Homo sapiens: one gene and its partner. The protein of the gene in region 1 interacts with the protein of each later gene in a biochemical or structural test. Each region holds a gene or a part of one and is shown on either strand. Other genes may lie near its edges. The genes, in order: GHRL and MLNR.

Region 1 (5,038 bases):
AAGTCAGTCCACATGTTTAGGCTAAGGTGGGCATGACCGAGTGGCCTTCCCCCGGGAAGACCAGTGTCGTAACTGGAATTAAGTTGTGGAACATAAGAGTCAAGGCTCGTGTCTGCTGTGAACTGGAGTTGAGGGAATGTTTGGGGATCCCACCTGGTATCAGTAAGGGAACCATGGCGACGGCCAGCCTTGCCCATGTGAGGCATTTGCTTTGTCAGGCCTTCTCAGTAGTGGAGAAGGGAGGAAGGAGAATGCAGCTCTTTCAGTGCTGTCTAGCAGTGCCCAAGAGCCGTGATTGGGCACCTCACTTAACGTCTAACTTCAGATTCACTCTTGGGCATTCCTGTCTTCCTCTCCAATCTTGAATGGATGTTGGCTTCGATAATGTCATCCTGAAGTTTCTTTGTCCACACAGCCCTGGCTGGTTGTTAATAAGCTGTTAATGCAGCCTTGCACTCAGGAAGCCCTGATGTTTAAAGGAACTGTGTCTTTGTTCTTCCTCTCTTCCCTCTTTCTCTTAGTCCCACTTTATCTCTTCTTTCTCTTCCTCTCCCTCCTCCTTTTCCCCTCTCCCTCCTACTCTCCCCCTTTCTCTCCTCCTTCTCTAAGAAACCCAGTCTTAATTCCACACAATGCATGCACATGCAGTAGCTTCTCTGCTTGAGTGAGCTGGTGTGATTAGGTTTTCTAAACATGCACATTGGCCTTGCTACTTGTCCTTTTATTCCCTTCCCACAGACCATAAACCAAGAATTATTTTTATTTGTATTATTTTGATTTTTTTAAAGTAAAATATTAACTTTTCCTCTTTGAAATAAATTCCCATTTGGAACATCAGCATACAGTTTGAACATTTATTCGCCTCCTGAGCTTGTACAACAGTCGTGGGAGTTGCTGCAGAAGCAAGCGAAAAGCCAGATGAGCGCTTCTAAACTTAGAGAGAGGTGAGTAAGGCTTGTGGGCGATCACTTGTCGGCTGGGGCCTCTGGAAAGCAAGAGGTTGAGTAAGAATGCTGGGTGCACCGTCCTGCTAGTGCTTTTCTTCCACGGTGGTGAGATTGGAGGTGGGATGTAATGGTGGGGGTTGTGGGGAAGCACTGGCCTTGGAGTCAGAGGGCGGCACTCAAGTGTGGACTGTTGTGCCCTGGGCAAGTCACCTCAAAGCTCTGAGTCTTGGTTTCCTCGTTTGCACAGCGGGGTGAATGCTACCCCTGCTGTTCCCCAGGGGTGACGGGTCACCGCCTTGGTGAGGACAGTGCTTTGCAGATGTGCAGGTGTTTCTGCCACCTCAATCAGTTGGGCGGTTTCTTTTTTTTCTTTTACAAGGTGAGGGGATTCAAAGCAAACCCTTTGCTTAACTCAGGAAGCTCTAATATTTGAAGGAACTGCTTAACAGGCTGCAGAACCTGTTCTGAGTGCTATTTTGGCACCAATTCCTTTTTGTTTGTGGAGTAAAGTTACGCAGTGAAGACGGTGTAACACCAAATAATTGTAGACTCTCACAATAGGTAAAATAGCTCCATTTTACAGTTAAGGAAGCTGAGGTTCAACTGAGGCCCCAAAGCTAGTTAATGTACTAGTTCTTAGAACATTCTTTGAACACAAAGACTATGATGAACTCCCTTCTGAGCCACTCACAAATACTAGCCAACCACTATCCTGCAGATCTTTGGGAAAGGGAAATTAGAAGTTCTTTTGGAGAGGCAGAGGTTGGGGAAAACTCATCACCCACAGAGTGAACTCCCATGTGGGGCTGCAAGGAAACCGAGCAAACCCAGTCCAGGCAGGACTCACCTTTGGCCTCTTCCCAGAGGATGTCCTGAAGAAACTTCCCCAGGGCCTGGCTGTGCTGCTGGTACTGAACCCCTGACAGCTTGATTCCAACATCAAAGGGGGCGTTGAACTAGGAGGCAGGGCAGGGAGGACCCAGGAGATGTCAGAGGTCATGCCCATCCCCATCTCAAAGGGGGCTCTGGGCTCTCTGCCTCTCTTCAGGAGTGGAGAGGGAGAATGGCCTTTGGGCCCCAGCAGGGACTGCTGAGTGACACCTCAGCCAGGTTCTCTTCCTTTCTCAGGACCACAGCTCACCTTCCCACTCACCATCTTTCAGACACTTACCTTGCACTCTCATGCCTCTCAGCCTTAGCCTCTAATGGGATTGCTGATAAAAGCTGTGGTGCCCCCTAGTGTGAGATTTTTTTTCTCCCTTGCAGTTTTGAAGACAAAAGGTTGAGTCACCAATGGCAGCATTTCAGGCCCTGGCAGGGGGTCTGCCCAGCATTCTCAGCACTGGCCTGCTGGCCTTCTATTCCTTCCCTGCTCCCAGCTCTTTCTCCTTTCTCTCTTGTCTGTTTCTTCTCCTTTTTCTCCTTCCCTAGGTATTTTTTCTCTCATATGCATAGACCTTTCTTTGATGCCTGGAAAATCAAAAGGAAGTTGATGTTTTCCTAGAAAGAGGCTCTGAGCCAAGTCCTTTCTGTGCTTCCATTTCTTCCCCTCTACAGGGAGAGCGCCTCATCTCTTCCATTTTCCAGGTATTCCTGAGATGATTTATTGGAGCTCAAAGCTTTGGGTAAGTGGGAAGGAGCTCTGCTGCAGCCACATGGCAGACTTTCCTTGAGAGCAGAGATTGTCTCTGCCAGTGGCTACCTCGGTGCCTGGCCATATTGGGCACTGACTTATCTGAGTCAGGGAAGGATCTTAGTGCTGGGTCATTTGGTCCTCACAGTAGAAGCCCAAGGAGTTGGAGGCCAAGGACTAGAATGCAGGACTTTTAAACCCACTTGGCCCTGAAAACTGCTTTAGTCCTATTGCCCTTCCTCTGTGTGAGGCCAGGCGTCCTCAGTGCCTCCCTGTGGGGTAGGCGCTACCACTGTGCCCATTTTACAGGTGAGGACAGAGGCGCAGAGAAGCTATTAACCAATAGCTATGCGTTCCCTTTTCGAAATCTCCCTCCCCTTAACTCCACCATGAAGGTGGACCCAGTGGGGAATGACATGATTGAATTTTTTTTTTTTTTTTTTTTTTTTTTTAAGGAGAGTTGGGGCCTTCCATTCCCTCCAGTAAATACTTGTTTTTCTTCCACCGCTGAGGCAAATGCGGGGTGGCTGATCACCTGGCAGACATCTTAGGAAACAGGAGCACCGGTCTGGGAAACTGCTGGCCTGGCCTAACACCTGGCGCTGTGGTGCAGGCAAGTGAGTGGTGACACAGTGCTGGCTGGTGGGGGGCAGCTTCCCTCCTGGCCTCAGTGGCCCATCTGTTCAATGGGAGTGGGACTTGGTCTCCAAAGTCTTCTACTCTGAAACTTGATTTTGGGAGGGAAACGTTTGGGGGGAGGTAGAGGGGCCTGAGATGAGAGAGGTGGGTGGGACACTCGGTTGTGAGGGGTTTGGTAGTGGGGCGCTCCAGGTCTCTGCAGCCACTCCTCTTCTGGCAGCCCCAACACCCCCCAGGCGTTTGACTTCTGGTTCCAGCCAAGGCAGTGTGGGTCACATGCTCCAAGGCTAGCTTTCACAGAAACTGCAAAGTTCCCGCTGTACCAGCCCCACCTTGCGTCGTCAGCCACCAAGACCTCTTTCTCATCTGGGTACTGGGCAGCTCCTCTGGCTGGGATGACCATGTGTGGAGCTAGCCGTCTCACCAGCAAAATATCCTGGTTTTGGCCTAAGGGTATGCAGCTCTTTCAGATGAGAATCTAGTGGATCCCACCGTGTAGAGGAAAGGTCTGAACACCGCCAGGTGCTGGTGAGGATGAAAGCGAGCAGGGGCTGGGGGAGCTTCCGACGGCTTTATTCCTCGACTGGAGAAGAGTATGGTAAACAGGCAGGCAGAGGCCAAGGCGGGCACATTTCACTCCTCTGGAAGGAAGAGGCCTCCCCTGGGCCACTGTGCGCTGTCTCTGTCCATCAGACCAGTGAGGAGGAAGAGGGCTTGGGGACTGGAGTCAGCCCTGACCTTGTGTCGCGTCCCTTCCACACACCGCTGTGGTACCTTGGGCAAGTGAGTTCACCTCTGAACTGTTCCTTGGCTCTAAAGTGGGAGTAATGCCAGCCCTGCTTACCTCACAGGTTGTCGTAGGGAGGAGGTGGGGCAGTTAGAGGTGAAGTTGGTATCCTCGGGCACAGCGTCTAATAGCTGCCATTATTAAGTGCTACCTTGGGGGAATCCTGCCTTAGCTGCGAAATGGTGTCACCAACCAAATATTTAGAAGAAACCATTCCCTGAACCACAGCCACAGGAAGGTTGCATAGAAAACCCCGTAAAATCCTTTACTCCCTCCTCCTCTCCATCCTTGGGTTGTCTTAACTTTCTCCTTGCCCCACGCACGATTTGTCAGAGCACATCACCCACACCTGCCCCCTCCTTGCCTCCAGGCGAGGTGAGTGGGTGCCGGAGCCTGGGCTGGCGCCAGCCCTCCCATCCAGGGTGCTGTTCGGAAGCACTCCACCCCACAGTCCAGGCCCTGGAAGCCCCTGAGTAAAACATGGTTTTCTGCAGAGCAACATCTTCAGTCTGGGCCTGCCGTTTATTTCTGGGTGTCTTTGTCTCTGGGCACTGTATTTTCTGTCCCCTTTGAGTCGCCTGGAGGCTCTGGCACCCTCTCTCCTCTGCCCAGGCTCCTTCCGTCCCTATTCTGTTGTAGCAAAGTTACTTCTTCTAGATATTTTTCTCTTAATGGGTAAAGACCTCACAGAGCCCAGGGCAGAGCTCAACTCCTGTGGTACTGGTTTTATAGTTCTGGGGAGCTTGTAGTTGGGACCCTGTTCACTGCCACCTCTCCCTGCCCTCCCTCTCCCCTGACCCCACCCTCCTCGCTGCCACAGAAGCATAAAACTGCAGAGGTACCGACCCGGACTTCCAGTTCATCCTCTGCCCCTTCTGCTTGACCTCCATCTTCCGGGCGGAGCCAGCCTGCTAGAGCTCGGGGCTGCAGCTTGGCTGGTGGCTTCTTCGACTCCTTTCTCTGCTGGAAGGGGGAAACAGTCTGTTTAGGACTCTAAGCCCCCATGTCCTTCCAGAAACAGTGAGGTCAGAC
Region 2 (7,613 bases), on another chromosome or scaffold:
CAGCCTGCGGCACGTGCCTGGTTTACAACAATATTTTATGGATGTCCTTGGGAGCTATTAAAGAATTTGGTCTGCCTAGGCCCAAGATATCATGCTGACAATCTGGAACTTTACCTGAAATTTCCCAATTGTAAAAGGTTGGTTCAAAACATTATGAAATGGCCAGGCTCCGTGGCTCACATCTGTATTCCCAGCACTTTGGGAGGCAGAGGAGGGTGGATCACTTGAGCCCAGGAGTTCAAGAGCAGCCTGGGCAATCTAGGGAGACCCCCATCTCTACAAACTTCATGCCTTGCTCTTATGTGGGGAAAAGAGTGTAAAGCCTGTGGAGTGTTTACAAGTTTACATAAGTAAACTATTGTACAAGTTACGGATGTATTTTTTTTTTTTTTTTTTTTTGAGACGGAGTCTCGCTCTGTCGCCCAGGCTGGAGTGCAGTGGCGGGATCTCGGCTCACTGCAAGCTCCGCCTCCCGGGTTCACGCCATTCTCCTGCCTCAGCCTCCCAAGTAGCTGGGACTACAGGCGCCCGCCACTACGCCTGGCTAATTTTTTGTATTTTTAGTAGAGACGGGGTTTCACCGTTTTAGCCGGGATGGTCTCGATCTCCTGACCTCGTGATCCGCCCGCCTCGGCCTCCCAAAGTGCTGGGATTACAGGCGTGAGCCACCGCGCCCGGCCGTTACGGAGGTATTTTAATGCTCCTCACAACTTTCCAGATTCTTCAATTTGCCCATAAAATCTGGTTTCTGAGAAAGACACTGGAAGACACTTTCCTAGCAGAATCCAGATCATAACCTAGCATTCTCTGCAGCTGGTGGTGCTATGGTCTGTATAGCAAGAGGCCACCCAGCACAGTAGTTATGCCCATGGACTCTGGAAGTGGACAGCACCACCCTTACTGGCTGTCCCAGTGACCTGGGGTCACTTCTCTGTGCTTTGCTCTTCTCATCTCTAACATAGAGATACTAAAAGAACCTGCTGCCTTGGACTGCTGTGGAGGATTAAATGCATTCAGATATGAAAGTACTTGGAACAGTGCCTTGCACACAGCAAGCATTAGCTTTATATTCATCCAGACCATCCCTTTATATTCATCAAAAGCCAACAAGTGAGGCCTCCAGCCCGGGGCCAAGAGCCTATTGATGACACCAACCTCTTGCCTCTGGGGACGCAGGCCGTAGCTGGGCCAAACCTAGACCCACCCTTGCCCCACATGAGTTACAGGTGGAGAGGTACTCAAAGAGTAAAGAAGAGAGACGCCCATGCTCCCGGTCTACTGAGAACTTCCTCTTCCTCTCGCTAGATTAACTATGAAGTCAGGAAGCTGGTGAATGTCTACAGAAACACAAAGTAGAAAACAGATCTGGTCCCATTCCTTCCTAAAACATTGAATGCCAACCCATCATAAGAGCTCAGATATGTCCTAAGGGCCAAGTTATGTTTGAACCTCAGCATAGCAATGTTATCAAAAAAGCCCGCTGGGTCTCCACCTCTCCATATCAGTATTCTGTCTTAAGCTGAAGTATCAGTGACTACTTACTGAGCACCCACTACAATCAGAGCACTGTTTTAACGGCTAGGAATTGTAAAGAAAACAATGGTACCTGGTTCTACAGAAGCTCATTCATTCTCCAAGTTAACAAATATTTATTAAATTCTCACTTTGTGCCAGGCACTAAGGAAACAGCAGTGAACACAGCAGATTAAAGCCCTGCCTTCTGGTGCACATAATGTTGGGAGATAGAGATAGATAATAAACAAATAGCTAGGTAAATTAAATAGTATGTCAGTTGATAATAAGCAATATGGAGAAAATACCATAGAGAGGGAGTGCCTGAATGGAGGTGAGTAATTCACAACAGCCAGGATGCTGACTGCAGACTCAGTGAGCCTGCCTCAGCGCCACCATGGTGGGTGGGGAAGGGAATAAGGGAGGCTTCAGCAGAGGCTGGGGTAGTCCATCAGGCCAAGGAGCAAATGGGAAAAACCAAAGAGACTCAGGGATTCGCAGCCCATGAGAGCCATGGGGAAGATGTCAAGTGCTCCTGATAGCATCACCTGAGTCCAAGAAAGAAGCTACCTCTTCACTAGCCACAGGCCCATGCGCCCAAGGCTAGCAGAGCCACTGGTGACCAGGCAGGAAGGGAACATGGAACTGGAGTCTAGCAAATGCCAGCCCCTGACACCCCAGGAGCCGGCGTGAAGCTTCATAAGGACCTCTCCCTCTAGCTTTAAGCCACTGACCCCTCTCCCCGTACACCTGGGCCACCTTGAGGAAAGGCATGATGTCTGAGAGAAGGGAACACTGCCCAGAGGGGCTGCTTAACTGATCCGCCTGGATCATGCCTTACCTAGGCTAGAGCATTCATTTCTCTTGTTGAGAGCACAGGGGAAAATCAAATCAACTATAAATGAAGAAATTACATTTTCTCTGCCTAGGGGGAGGAGACAGGGAGGAAGAAAAAGTGGAAACTGTGAGTACAGAAACTATTTTGAGGAGTTTTGCATGAAAATGATCCAGGAGAGAAAAACTGATGACAAGAGAGAGAGAAAGAGAATTGACGCAGTGATGTCTGGAGGAGGAGAAAGGAGCACTTAAGGGGCAGAGCTGACTTCAGCTGCAAGTACCACCAACTGTCCCAGGGGAGCACGAGCAGAGGTGGGGGTGTGGTAGTTATCTTCAGAGAAACAGGGTGCAAGGAAACCTCCCAAAGGAAGGGGTGGTGGGTGTTGGGTCTAAGGAGAGAGGAGGGGGTATAAACCAGCAGCCTGGTGGTGGGAGAGTGAATGAGGTCAGGTGAGAGTTGGGAAGGCCGGGGGAACGAAGCACCCCGCTAGAGGTTGTGCTTTCAAGTGAAACAACGCCATGTGAGAGCAGGCAAGGAGTAGGCAGGGAATTCGGCTTCACCAGGGTTGTGGTGCTCTTGGTGGATGGACGAGGCTGACAATGGAGAAAAGAGCAAGGGAGTCGAGGGCGTCTGTGTGGGAGTGATGGCGACTGCCCGTGGAATTTACGTTGGGTAAAGGAAGAAAGTGAAGACCTGGGGCAGGCAAGGGACCGGGAAAAGGAAGGAGGAGCCAGCGATGGAGGTCGCAGTGGGTTGAAGGATTACCGGAACTGAGGTGCTAGGGGAAGAGAGCTAAAAAGAGAGCGGGCGGAGGTCAGAAAGAGGGCTGACTGAAGTGGAGGTGGAGGAAGGCTGGCAGGCAACCGTGAGGTGTAAGTTCCGTCGACAGGCGCGGCTGAGATCGGGTGGAGAGCAAGGTCATAGGTGGAAAGGAGGTCAACAAACTAGAGGCCAAGGCATTCCAAGACTCGGCATGGGTGTGAACGGCCGCAGATGCAGTGCTTCAAAGAGAGCGCAGGCACCTGTCCCTCAGGGACTACGGGTGACCACGGAGGAAAGCGCTAGGGAGGGCGGTTTTAGGACCGCTGGAAACAGCAGCGATGAGGGAGGCGACAGGTGTCCCTCCTCCAAGCTCACAGTCTGCATGTGAGAGAGAACTGCAGGAGAAGCTTGCCCTAGGCAAAGCCAGGTGTCAGGTCCAGAATCGAGACTCCAGAGAAGAGGTTGAGGATTTAAGCCACTGAGGGGGTGGAGCTGGGCAGTGAGTAGGACGTCAGGCTTGCAAGCTCTGGGATTAGGCCGACCAGAGCCCATATCCCAGTCCCGCCTCTTACTGCCTGCTTGATCTCAAGCAAGACCGCTTTGTTCATGGGCGAAAGGAGCGCCCCGGGCCATGAGGATTAAATGGAGAGCACAGGGCCAGATCCATCTAAATTCTCAGTAAGTGTTAGCTATTGTTATTAAGACCACACCGAACAGACTGAACATCCGTTTTAGCCCCTTTCCCCAATTTTCGTTCTTTCCGGTGTTGACAAATCCTCTAGTTTTTTAAGTTTATAAAACATGTTGTACATAAGAATGACATATCACATGTGAAAGTACTCTAGTGTCCACGTAAATATTTGTCTTGTTCTTTATAATAAGTAAACATGCTCACGGATCCTTGAAATTATCTGGTCACTGCCGGGCGCGGTGGCTCACGCCTGTAATCCCAGCACTTTGGGAGGTCGAGGCGGGTGGACCACCTGGGGTCAGGAGTTCGAGACCAGGCTGGCCAACATGGCGAAACCCTGACTACACAAAAAACACAAAATTTAGCCGGGGCTTGGGCGCTCCTGTGCTCCCAGCTACTCAGGAGGCTGAGGTGGGAGGACTGCTTGAGCCTGGGAGGTCGAGGCTGCAGTGAGCTGTGATCGCGCCACTTAAACTCCAGCCTGGACGACAGTGAGACCCTGTCTCAAGAAGAAAAAAAGAAAGAAAGAAAGAAAAAAAGAAAAAAAAGAAATTATTTGGTCAATTATATGGTCAGCTCCCTCCACCACTCGCGAATTTACAGAAGAGGAGAACTGGGCTGGGCGAGACCAGGACTAGCCCAAGATTACACAAGTTACTCGGTTGTAGAGCCAGGATTAGACAGGAGAGGCTCTAGATTCTGGTCTAGACTCCCCTCCTATTATTTAGCATTATGGCTTCCTGAGGATTACCATGAGCCCTCCTCCACCGTCAAGCGGCAGCTACCAGCCACCAGACCAGATCCCTTCGAAGGTGCCCGGAGTACCAGACTGACAAAAGCGCCCGTACAGTGCTCAGTCCTGTAACCAAAGCTGTCTAGGGTGCAGACATCGCTCACCGGACCGGGTAGGGCTCGTGCGCTAAGGGCGCCGGGTATTCCAGTTAGTGGAGAGGGAAGCGCCCTGGAACTGCATGGGCCCGGGAGAGGGCGCGGGAGCGGAGCAGGGCCGGGCCGGGGCGGGCCGCGGCCGTGGGCGGAGACTGCGCGCAGCTAGCTCGGGAGCGCCTCGGAGCCCACCCCGCAGAGCCGCTTCTCGCGCCCCGCAGCGCAGCGCAGCGCTCCGCCGTCTGACCTGCCGCGCCCGCAGCGTGCGGGCTGGGAAAGGAGGCGCTCACCGAGAGGGACCACGCGCCAGGCTCCCAGCCCGACCCGGGACGCGGCGGCCGCGCGGAGCACCCATGGGCAGCCCCTGGAACGGCAGCGACGGCCCCGAGGGGGCGCGGGAGCCGCCGTGGCCCGCGCTGCCGCCTTGCGACGAGCGCCGCTGCTCGCCCTTTCCCCTGGGGGCGCTGGTGCCGGTGACCGCTGTGTGCCTGTGCCTGTTCGTCGTCGGGGTGAGCGGCAACGTGGTGACCGTGATGCTGATCGGGCGCTACCGGGACATGCGGACCACCACCAACTTGTACCTGGGCAGCATGGCCGTGTCCGACCTACTCATCCTGCTCGGGCTGCCGTTCGACCTGTACCGCCTCTGGCGCTCGCGGCCCTGGGTGTTCGGGCCGCTGCTCTGCCGCCTGTCCCTCTACGTGGGCGAGGGCTGCACCTACGCCACGCTGCTGCACATGACCGCGCTCAGCGTCGAGCGCTACCTGGCCATCTGCCGCCCGCTCCGCGCCCGCGTCTTGGTCACCCGGCGCCGCGTCCGCGCGCTCATCGCTGTGCTCTGGGCCGTGGCGCTGCTCTCTGCCGGTCCCTTCTTGTTCCTGGTGGGCGTCGAGCAGGACCCCGGCATCTCCGTAGTCCCGGGCCTCAATGGCACCGCGCGGATCGCCTCCTCGCCTCTCGCCTCGTCGCCGCCTCTCTGGCTCTCGCGGGCGCCACCGCCGTCCCCGCCGTCGGGGCCCGAGACCGCGGAGGCCGCGGCGCTGTTCAGCCGCGAATGCCGGCCGAGCCCCGCGCAGCTGGGCGCGCTGCGTGTCATGCTGTGGGTCACCACCGCCTACTTCTTCCTGCCCTTTCTGTGCCTCAGCATCCTCTACGGGCTCATCGGGCGGGAGCTGTGGAGCAGCCGGCGGCCGCTGCGAGGCCCGGCCGCCTCGGGGCGGGAGAGAGGCCACCGGCAGACCGTCCGCGTCCTGCGTAAGTGGAGCCGCCGTGGTTCCAAAGACGCCTGCCTGCAGTCCGCCCCGCCGGGGACCGCGCAAACGCTGGGTCCCCTTCCCCTGCTCGCCCAGCTCTGGGCGCCGCTTCCAGCTCCCTTTCCTATTTCGATTCCAGCCTCCACCCGCCGGTACTTCCCATCCCCCGAGAAAACCATGTCCTGTCCCCCAGGAGCTCTGGGGGACCCCAGGGCGCTTTGAGGGTGGGATCCCCGGATCCGATTCAGTAACCAGCAGTGCTTTTCCAGAGCCTCTGAGACCAGAAAGGAGAGTTGGTAATTCTTAATCCAACCACCTGTTAGATGCCACAGATGAGGAGTCCTCACAGTGCTCTTGAGAAGACGAGGGAGATTTCATTAAGCTAAAATTTTTTATTTAATGTTAAGTGATGCTGAAGGCTAAAGTAAACCTTGCTCGTATCAAAAAGTAAAGATTGTGCAGACCTGTTGTAGAATTCTTTTCAACAGAGAACAGAAAACTTGTCTCCGAAGTGGGTTTGTGGAAGGAAGCCTGCCAAGGCGGCTTGTTCAGAGAAATTGCTCCTTCTGGTTTATGTCCAGCCTTGATAACACATATGGGAGCCTACTATGCAGTTTTAAAGCAAGTATCCATGCAGCCTGCAGCCTGGTCATTTTTTCTGGGGTGAGGATCTGCCTAGGTAGAAGTTTTCTCTAATTTATTTTGCTGTTACTTGTTATTGCAGATGGTTCCTTGTCGGGGTGGGGGGTTTATTTGCTTCCCAATGCTTTTGTTAATCCCGGTGCTGTGTCTTATGTTGCAGTGGTGGTGGTTCTGGCATTTATAATTTGCTGGTTGCCCTTCCACGTTGGCAGAATCATTTACATAAACACGGAAGATTCGCGGATGATGTACTTCTCTCAGTACTTTAACATCGTCGCTCTGCAACTTTTCTATCTGAGCGCATCTATCAACCCAATCCTCTACAACCTCATTTCAAAGAAGTACAGAGCGGCGGCCTTTAAACTGCTGCTCGCAAGGAAGTCCAGGCCGAGAGGCTTCCACAGAAGCAGGGACACTGCGGGGGAAGTTGCAGGGGACACTGGAGGAGACACGGTGGGCTACACCGAGACAAGCGCTAACGTGAAGACGATGGGATAACCAGCACGGCCAAGCCAGGCTCCTCTTGCAGTTCTAAGACTTTGGGGAAAACAGGTGTGTAGAGAAATAAAGACTGCAAATGAGGAACAGATCCTGTTAAGAAGAATGGAAAGAGGGTTGCAGTTGTGCCAGTTGGTTAAGAAATAGACCGCATGATTTATTTAACCAAGGTATGAAATGTAACTGCGCCAACCTTTCTAGTTTCCTTCCCACGTACCTCCTAAGGAAGGTCGATTTTACCATCATGAAATCCCACATCTCAAAGTGTGCTCTTGTGTGATGGTTTCATGAAGTCCTCATTCTCCTACTCTTCGGAAAGATGATTGTTCATTTTACAGTTAAATGATACACAAAGATGCTGCCCCAAAACTGCCACCTCTGAGATCATGAGTGTATTTTATGTTTTGGATGTAAATGTAACAGTACATCTACAAGGAACCAGGATAATGATAGTTTTGATCCAAGAAATGATTTAATACCTATGTATGGCTGCAAAAACTTTTAGAAGTAAAAGGAATTCTGGGTAGACTCC

Evidence for each region.
Region 2: the proteins of GHRL (region 1) and MLNR form a complex in vitro, tested with the Homo sapiens proteins (one study listed by BioGRID).

Annotation. Positions count from the first base shown.
Region 1 is NC_000003.12:10,284,910-10,289,947, forward strand, and holds the end of GHRL (appetite-regulating hormone isoform 1 preproprotein), read right to left. Parts: intron 4,970-5,038; coding exon 4,853-4,969; intron 3,198-4,852; exon of another isoform or gene 3,036-3,197; intron 2,573-3,035; exon of another isoform or gene 2,379-2,572; intron 1,904-2,378; coding exon 1,795-1,903; intron 986-1,794; coding exon 966-985; 3' UTR 757-965; downstream 1-756.
Region 2 is NC_000013.11:49,215,297-49,222,909, forward strand, and holds MLNR (motilin receptor), read left to right. Parts: upstream 1-5,041; coding exon 5,042-5,942; intron 5,943-6,743; coding exon 6,744-7,081; downstream 7,082-7,613. UniProt on the Homo sapiens protein: Receptor for motilin.